Linked DNA regions of Homo sapiens: region 1 is linked to region 2. Evidence: fine-mapped expression QTL. A gene starts in region 2. The other region holds a variant in brackets. All regions are shown on one strand. Distances are between the middles of the regions.

What was found. PIP is the estimated chance that this variant, and not a neighbour inherited with it, causes the effect. A credible set is the group of variants that fine-mapping cannot tell apart.
Region 1: its variant is the best candidate, but not a certain one, in a credible set for the expression of MTF1 in prefrontal cortex (ROSMAP, PIP 0.51).

What each region holds. Positions count from the first base shown.
Region 1 is chr1:37,645,856-37,650,246 of GRCh38, reverse strand. No RefSeq gene overlaps it. Among named protein-coding and RNA genes, the nearest start is that of RSPO1, 13 kb to the right of the region's middle. The variant C/T (reference allele first, on the strand shown) is at 2,740.
Region 2 is chr1:37,856,905-37,861,227 of GRCh38, reverse strand. MTF1 (metal regulatory transcription factor 1) reads left to right here and starts at 1,636. Exons shown (of 11, transcript NM_005955.3): 1 at 1,636-1,697; 2 at 3,519-3,977. The coding sequence starts at 3,570. INPP5B (inositol polyphosphate-5-phosphatase B) reads left to right here. Exons shown (of 24, transcript NM_005540.3): 24 at 1-531. RefSeq lists a silencer at 1,370-1,699.

The sequences.
Region 1 (4,391 bases), 210 kb after region 2:
CTCGATCCTGGAGCCAGGTAACCTGTCTCCAATCCAGGACAGACTGCACCTCAGGAATTCCCTTCTCTGGCAAACACTCCTCTTTAGGCCTTCACCTCAGTGGGAGGAAGCCTTGCCTGCACAAGGAGGGGCAGAATCCCAGACACCACCCTCTTGCTTTACCAGCCTCCTTCAGTTTTCCTATCAAATCCCCAAGGCCAAGGGCAGCACTGCTACTACTGCGTTTTACCTGTTGCTCATCTACAGTGTTTGCAGCTTTTTGCCCACCCTCTTCCTACTCTTGAAGGAGGAGCCAGAGGCTTCTGTGAGGTACTGGGGCTGGAGTCGAGAACTGCAGATGGAAGCGGGAGAGAAGAAAGAGGCTCCCACCTGGCTTCTCACCCACGACCTACTGCTGGGTGGGAGGAGAAGGTGAGAAATAACCATTTATTGAGCATCTACTGTGTGCCAGACACTGCATCAGGGCCACAAGTTAGCATGCATGTACCAGAAGGTAAACTCCATGAGGGCGGAGATTATTCTGTTTTGTTCACTGCTGTAACCTTAGTGCCTAGCACATGGTAAGAGCTCAATAAATATATGCGGAATAAATGAATTTCTACCTGTTATTCTCATCATAACTCTATGAGGCAGGTATAATTATTATCACCATGTTACATGATTTTCAGCTGAGACTCAGAGAGGTTAAGTGACTTGCTCAATGTCACACAGCCAGGTAAGTGGCAGAGCTGGGCCTGTCTGGCTGTAAAGCCCTTGCTCTGACCACTGCACTCTTGAGCAGGCCCAGATGACCACAGCTACTCCGTGTGTGTGTGTGTGTGTGTGTGTGTGTGTGTGTGTGTGCAGCTGTCCTGGCATGGGAGTATCACATCTTAGAGGCTCAGTGACTACACAAGTCCCATGGTTACAAGTAGAAACTGTCATGTGTTCTTGTGCCTCAGTGTGCTCAATAAATATTAACTGAATAGCCACAGCTTCTCAGAGATGATAAAAAAGGAAGAAATATTAATTGAATAAATGAAATAAGCGGATGAGCGAATAAGTGCTTCCATGCTAGCTCACAGATACCCTGGTTGTGTTTAGAGGGGCTGGGTGATTAGAAGATAGGGTCTTCAGCTGGGCATTGGACACCTGGGTTCTAATCCCTAAGTTGTAGTGTGACTTTGGCTGAGTCACCACCCCTCACTGGGCCTGGGTCCCTCCTCATTGAGGTAGATGAGAGCTGATGGTCAGGTGTTTCTCAAGGCCCTTCCAGCTCGGCCACCTCAAGTGCTCAGGGTGTGAGGCTTCCCAGTTATGGGCTCCACAGTCAGGGTGAAGTTGGTTCTTGTTTTCTGGGAAGGGGAGGGGATGTGGTGGGGAATCTGAGTATGCTTATTCTACATATTCTATAGAATGAAGTCTGACTCTGGCTCAGCATCCAAGGCCTTCCACAATGCAGTCTCAGTCCAACTGCTTCCCCTCATCCTATGCAACACATAGACACACTTATTCTCTCTCTCTCTCTCTCTTAGACACTGGGCAGAACAACAGCTTAGCAAGGAAAAGGGGCTTGAGACTTGTACCAGCTGCCTGTCACTGACCTGGGCTTTACCCCCAGCAACTCCACATGATGGAGGAAGCACAGGATATAAATCCAGGCTTGACCACTACAATCAGTGTGCTCACGGGCAAGTCGCTTAGCCTCTATGTGCCTCTGTTTTCTCATCAGCAAAATGGAAATGGTGATACTTTCTATCTTGGTGAGACTTTGCTCAAAAGAAGTGACAGTGTCCATCAAGTGCACTTTTGTTATGTGAGCCTGGAGAAAACTTTATTAGAAATCTACTTTGTGGCTGGGTGAGGTGGCTCATGTCCATAGTCCCAGAACTTTGAGAGGCCGAGGCAGGAGGATTGCTTGAGTCCAGGAGTTCGAGACCAGCCTGGGCAACATGGCAAAACCCTGTCTCTACAAAAAATATAAAATTAGCCGGATATGGTGGACTATGAGCCTGTAGTCCCAGCTACTTGAGAGGCTGAGGTGGGAGGATGGCTTGAGCCTGGAAGGTTGAGGCTGCAGTGAGCTGTGATCACACCACTGCATTCCAGCCTGGCGACAGAGCGAGACCCTGTCTCAAAAATCAAAACAAAACAGCTGGGCATGGTGGCTCACACCTGTAATCCCAGCACTTTGGGAGGCCAAGGCGGGTGGATCACCTGAGGTCGGGAGTTCGAGATCAGCCTAACCAACATGGTGAAACCCCGTCTCTACTAAAAATACAAAATTAGCTGGGCATGGTGGCACATGCCTGTAATCCCAGCTACTCGGGAGGCTGAGGCAGGAGAATTGCTTGAACCCGTGAGGCAGAGGTTGCAATGAGCCAAGATTGTGCCATTGCACTCCAGCCTGGGCAACAAGAGCAAAACTCCATCTCAAAAAAATAAAAGACATGACTTTGTGGTCAGACCTCTGACAAAGATCTGAAAGAGAAGAAGCCCAAGATACAGTTGCTACCTACTTTTTTTTTCTTTCTTGAGACAGGGTCTTGCTTTGTCACCCAGGCTATGGATCTTCCACCTCCTAGGTTCAAGTGATCCTTCCACCTCAGCCTCCCAAGTAACTGGAACAACAGGTACACACCACCACACCTGGATAATTTATTTTATTTCTTATACAGACAGAGTCTCGCCATGTTGGTTTTGCACTCCTGGCCTCAAGCAACTTCCTGCCTTGGCCTCCCAAAGCGCTGGGATTCCATG[C/T]GTGTGCCACCGGGTCCAGCCTGCTGCCTACTTTTTGAGACTCGTGGTTTACCCGGGAGAATGGATGCATACTTAGGAATCCTGTGGGATGGAATAATGTAATCTCAGATAAAAAGCAAACAACAGGTTGGAGGAAATAGTTACAATTAACACGACAAGCAAATAGTTAATATTCTTGCCATATAACAATCTTACACAACTTAAGGGGTAAAAACCCCACAGAGACCCCAGTACATTAATGGGGTCTCGTGATATAGACAATGAGGGCAAATAATATGGATAGCAAAATCTACAAGCCAGAAATTATACATATGTAGTGGTGGGTATTTGTAAAACATATTTCATCTCATCGATAATCAAAGAAGTGCAAATTATTATTTTATTATTATTATTATTATTATTATTATTATTATTATTATTATTGAGACAGAGTCTCACTCTGTTGCCCAGGCTGGAGTGCAGTGGCACAATCTCGGCTCACTGCAACCTCCGCCTCTCAGGTTCAAGTGATTCTCCTGCCTCAGCCTCCTGAGTAGCTGGGATTTCAGGCACCCACCACCATGCCCGGCTAACTTTTGTATTTTTAGTAGAGACAGAGTTTTGCCATGTTGGCCAGGGTGGTCTTGAACTTCGAGCCTCAAGAGATCCCCCTACCTTGGCCTCCCAAAGTGCTGGGATTACAGGCGTGAGCCACCACACCCGGCAGAAGTGCAAATTAAAGTAACAATAACATTTCTGTCTTTTTTCTTTATCGAGAATCCCCAGTGTAGGTACTATCATAGTGAAAAAGGCAAGCTCGTATACTGCCACTGTTTTCAGTCATTAGTTTGATATTTATCAGGCACATACTACAGGCTGGACACTGTTTCGGAGGCTGCAGAGCATGTTTGCAGTGTGGACAAAAAGCCTTGAAAAGTACTCAGAGCAGCACTGCAAAAAGAAGTCGAGTTTACGGCACTAACCATGGACAAGGCTGAGCCGGGTGGTATTAACAGTTCACACAGGCCGGGTGCAGTGGCTCACGCCTGTAATGCCAGCACTTTGGGAGGCCGAGGTGGGCAGATCACGATGACAGGAGATCGAGACCATCCTGGCTAACACGGTGAAACGCTGTCTCTACTAAAAATACAAAAAATTAGCCGGGCGTGGTGGCAGGTGCCTGTAATCCCAGCTACTCGGGAGGCTGAGGCAGGACAATGGCGTGAACTCGGGAGGCGGAGCTTGCAGTGAGCCGAGATCGCGCCACTGCACTCCAGCCTGGGAGATGGAGCGAGACTCTATTTCAAAAAAAAACAAAAAACAAAAAACAGTTCACACAGATGTGGATCCAAACCCAGAGGCTGCCACTGGAGTCTGGGCCACCTTAGGGGAGCTGCTTAATTGGCCAAGCCCTCTATCTCCTTGTCTGTACAATGGGGATAATAATGTACCCCAATGCTCACAGCGTTGTCGTGAGCACAAAGTAAAACAACAAGTATAAAAGGCTAGGACTAAAGTGAATTCTTGGCCAGGTGTGGTGACTCATGCCTGTAATGCCAGCACTCTGGGAGGCTGAGGCGGGTGGATCACCTGAAGTCAGGAGTTTGAGACCAGCTGGGCCAACATGGTAAAACCCCGTCTCTATTAAAAATACAAAAATTAGCCAGGTATGG
Region 2 (4,323 bases):
GCAAACTCGACCCCCGTTCCTGCCCAGATAATGGCTCAATAACTCTGAGGCTGGTTGCTCAGCCTCTGAGGGCAATACAGGCATTTAAAAAATTAAAATGACCAGGCACAGTGGCTCACGCCTGTAATCTCGGCACTTTGGGAGACTGAGGTGGGAGCATCACTTGAGACCAGGAGTTTGGGACCAGGCTGGGCAACACAGGGAGACCCCCTCTCTACAAAAACATTTTTAAAAAATTAGCTGGGTGTGGTGATGCATGCCTGTGGTCCCAGTTACTTGGGAGGCTGACGTGGGTGGCTCACTTGAGCACAGGAGTTTGAGGCTGCAGTGACCTATGACCACATCACTGTACGCCAGCCCGGGTGAGAGAGGGAGACCCCGTCTCTAAAAATAAAATGTAAAATCACTGAAAAAATGAGTGTTCGGTGAAACAAGTGGGATTTTCTGGGCCAGCAAGTCTTCCAAACTGTATATGATGCATCCTGTCTCCATGTGTAATATATTTTAATGATAAATGTATTTTTAACAGTGGCGGTTGTGTATGTTTTTATGTCTTAAGAGATGGCAGTTCGCTGCAGCTGGATTTTGTGGCTCAAGCCTTGGGGCCAAAGAGACATATTCCTGGCAGTCTGGTGGGTACCAGTCACTATTCACATACTTCCAGCAAGAAATGGTTATGGCACTGACCTGAACCCCTTGACCCCTGGTCTGGTCTTTGGAGTTGTCCCACTCTGAATATTCGAGAGAAGCAGCTTATGGTTAAAACAGGCAGTGGCAGCTGGGAGGATCTAACAGCTAGATCCTCCAGGCATTTGGAAAGGACAGGGGCATAACGAAGGCAGAATCGCTTCCTGGGTACGAATGCCCACTACTTCTGGGCACTGTGAAATGGGTTTAAGACGCGGGCCAGCAGGACAATGTGAACGGTGAAAGGAAGGGAGTGGCCGGTAGGTGGCGCTAACTGGCCCGGGCATGAGTCCCGCCGTAGCCGCGTCCTCTTGCAGGGGAAGAAAGTTGGGACCGCCAGCCTGGGCAAGCGCGTGAGAAGGGAGCTGGGGGTCCTAGGCAAGCGCGTGAGAAGGGGAAGAGGCGGCGGCGTCCTCTCCAGCTGGGCTTAGAATACTCTTAGTTCTGCCTTTGGGGTCTTGTCTTCCTTTCTGGGCCTCCTGCCTGTGTTAACTTTGATGGGTGCTGAAGGGAAGGCCGGGGTCCCGGCAGGAGAAACCCGGGAACGTCGCGGCCGTCCAGGCTCCCCTGGCGGGTTGGAGCCAGGGTTCTGACTGCCAACTGTGGTCCTTCCCGCTGCGGCTGTGGCTGCCAGGGCGAGGGCGGTCAGCGCAAACCTGGCTGAGGACATTTCGGATTCTTCCTTGGGGATTCGTTCCCTTCTCCTTGACTCCGGTGCCGCGAGGGCGACACCCTCCGGGCCCCGCGTGGCCACCCCGGGCGCTTCCCCACGCGGATGAACCCACCTCCTGGGCGCCTTCCCCTCGGTGCCCCGCTCGCCAATTGGAGGCTGCAGCTCAGCCCCCTGACAACCTGAGCCAACCAGAGGCGCCAGGGAGGGGCGGATCCTCTGTCCCCACCTTCCTCCGGAAAGAGGAAGCGGAAGTGACGTTAGGGGAAGGTGGGGGCAATCATGGTGCCGCTGGGGAGGGGAGAAGCTGCTGCTGCCGCCGTTGCCGGGAGCCGCGGAGGTAAAAGGCGAAACTAGACTCGGCCTGGGCTTGGGACTTACCGGGAGGCGCGGGACTTAGGCTCCCTCCTGAAGCATTTCCCAATAGAGACCTCAGTTTGGTCACCATAGGGACCCCACCCCTTCTCCGTTTCCATGGGGATGGGTATCCAGCCCCCCTTCCCTGTTTCCATGGAGACCCGGACCCTGCCCCTCTCCTCCTTGCTTGGAGACCCCCAGCTTGTCTTCGGATTTTTCTGTGTAGCCCTGTGCTGGGGGCTATCCCAGACAGGTTCCTTTTCCCAGCCTCCTCTCAAGGGGGCTCTGTTCGCACTCCTCGTTGGCTACCCTCAAACCTCCTGGTCTTGTTTGTTTCGGACAGTTGGTCTCCGCGTTGCCGCCGAGGGTGCCGGGGCAGCCCACTGGGGCCCTCGGTGCTCTTCTCTCTCTGCTCAGATGCAGCGAAATGTACATCTGTGGGGTTGCGTAAGCCAGAGCTAGGGGTCGGGCCGGTACCTCCCGGATCCAATCCTTTGGCCTGTCTCTGGTAACTGTCTAGCCATCCCACTAAGTAAAGGCTCACTTTCTAACCCAGAGCAGAAGAGAAAGATAAAGCGCAAAGCCAGACTGAAAACTAAAAGGGATGTGCTGATTATTTTAAAATTCTCTATTCTGCCTGCCAAACCCACATTTGTAGAGCCTGTGTTTGCAGATGAAGGAAGAATCACTATTCCAGAACATGAAAGCTTCAAATGTGGTATTTTTCTCAAGAGAATGTATCTTCCCAAGATAGTATATCTTCACGAGAGAGTAGGTAGCCATGTCTTTCAGTCATTTAGCTGACATTTCCTGAACTCTTATCATAGTATCAGTGTACTATGCTAGGAGCTGTAGAAACAAAAATAATAAGACTCAATTGATTCAGGGACGAGAGCCCACCACAGAACCATAACTTCTTGTTGACACCATATTGTTTTAGGACATAAATAGATACAGTGATCTTCGTTGTTTGTGCCTGATTGAGGAATAGCCCTTCCACCCAGAAGGTTGAAACATCTGTTCTAGGTAGGGGGGAAGGAATTCATACTTGTTCCTCTACTATTTACCAAACATTGTGCTTTACATATGTTGCCTCTTTTATTTCTTATAAAAACTTTGAGAGAACAGGAATTACTGGTCCCACCTTGCACGTAAGAAAAATGAGGCACAGAAAAGTTACCCATGTAGTAAAAGGCAAAGACAGGATTTGTAGGTAGATGACTCTGCCTCCAAAGCCTTGCTCCTTCTACCATAAACTGCATGAAACCATTTACTGCCTCGTGGTCTGATTTGGAGGATATTTGAATGGATGGAGTTTCCCTTAAGATTTGTAGCAACTCAGCCTTTCAGCAGCTGCTGTTCTGTTTGCTCTTTTGTCCCCTTTAAATATTTTGACCAAGTTTCAAATTGTTTGACAGGCGTATTCAGAAGGTCTTATGAACTTATTCAGTTTTTGAAAAGCATTGCTTTTCTTTCTTTTTCTTTTTTTTTTTTTTTTATTAGAGATGGGGGTCTCACTATGTTGACCAGGCTGATCTCAAACTCCTGGCCTCAAGCGATCCTCCCATCTTAGCCTCCCAAAGTGTTGGGATTACAGGTGTGAGCCACCACGCCCAGTCGGCATTGCTTTTCTTTAAAAATGACTTGATGGTTTTAAAGTTAAAATAAAAAAATTATTCCCAAGGATGGTTTTTCATTTGCTTTGGCTTGCTCTTTAAGTGAGAGGGAAAATGAGCCTTGTGGTTGCTGAGGAGGTCCGTCGGTCTTGTGGTATGACTCTAACTCTGGCTTTGTTCTGTTGCAGACAAGTCATTACGTTTTCATTTCTCACAACTGGGCTGAGCACAACTGAACCATGGGGGAACACAGTCCAGACAACAACATCATCTACTTTGAGGCAGAGGAAGATGAGCTGACCCCCGATGATAAAATGCTCAGGTTTGTGGATAAAAACGGACTGGTGCCTTCCTCATCTGGAACTGTTTATGATAGGACCACTGTTCTTATTGAGCAGGACCCTGGCACTTTGGAGGATGAAGATGACGACGGACAGTGCGGAGAACACTTGCCTTTTCTAGTAGGGGGTGAAGAGGGCTTTCACCTGATAGATCATGAAGCAATGTCCCAGGGTTATGTGCAGCACATTATCTCACCAGATCAGATTCATTTGACAATAAACCCTGGTTCCACACCCATGCCAAGAAATATTGAAGGTGCAACCCTCACTCTGCAGTCGGAATGTCCGGAAACAAAACGTAAAGAAGTAAGTAAAGCAGTCAGTGAGGGCCTAGTTTGGTTTTGGGGCAAGTCCTTACAAAATTCTTGGTGCAAATTTTAGCTGGGGAGTAAAGGAGTGCATGGGGTTAGGACTTAAGTAGTTTTGCTATCAACAACATATGCCTCAGGTTTTGTTGTGATTGCTTCTGGAACTTTTGGTTTGTATAGCCACATTGAAATTTGGGAATATCAAATTGTAATTTCTCGAATTTCCTTCCCCAAATCATAAATAAAACAGAAATTTCACTTAAGTAGACCCATGTTTCTGGTGCTAAAATAACTATTTAGCTTATCTACAGGGAAATAACTGGAGTTTGCTTATTTGATGAAGA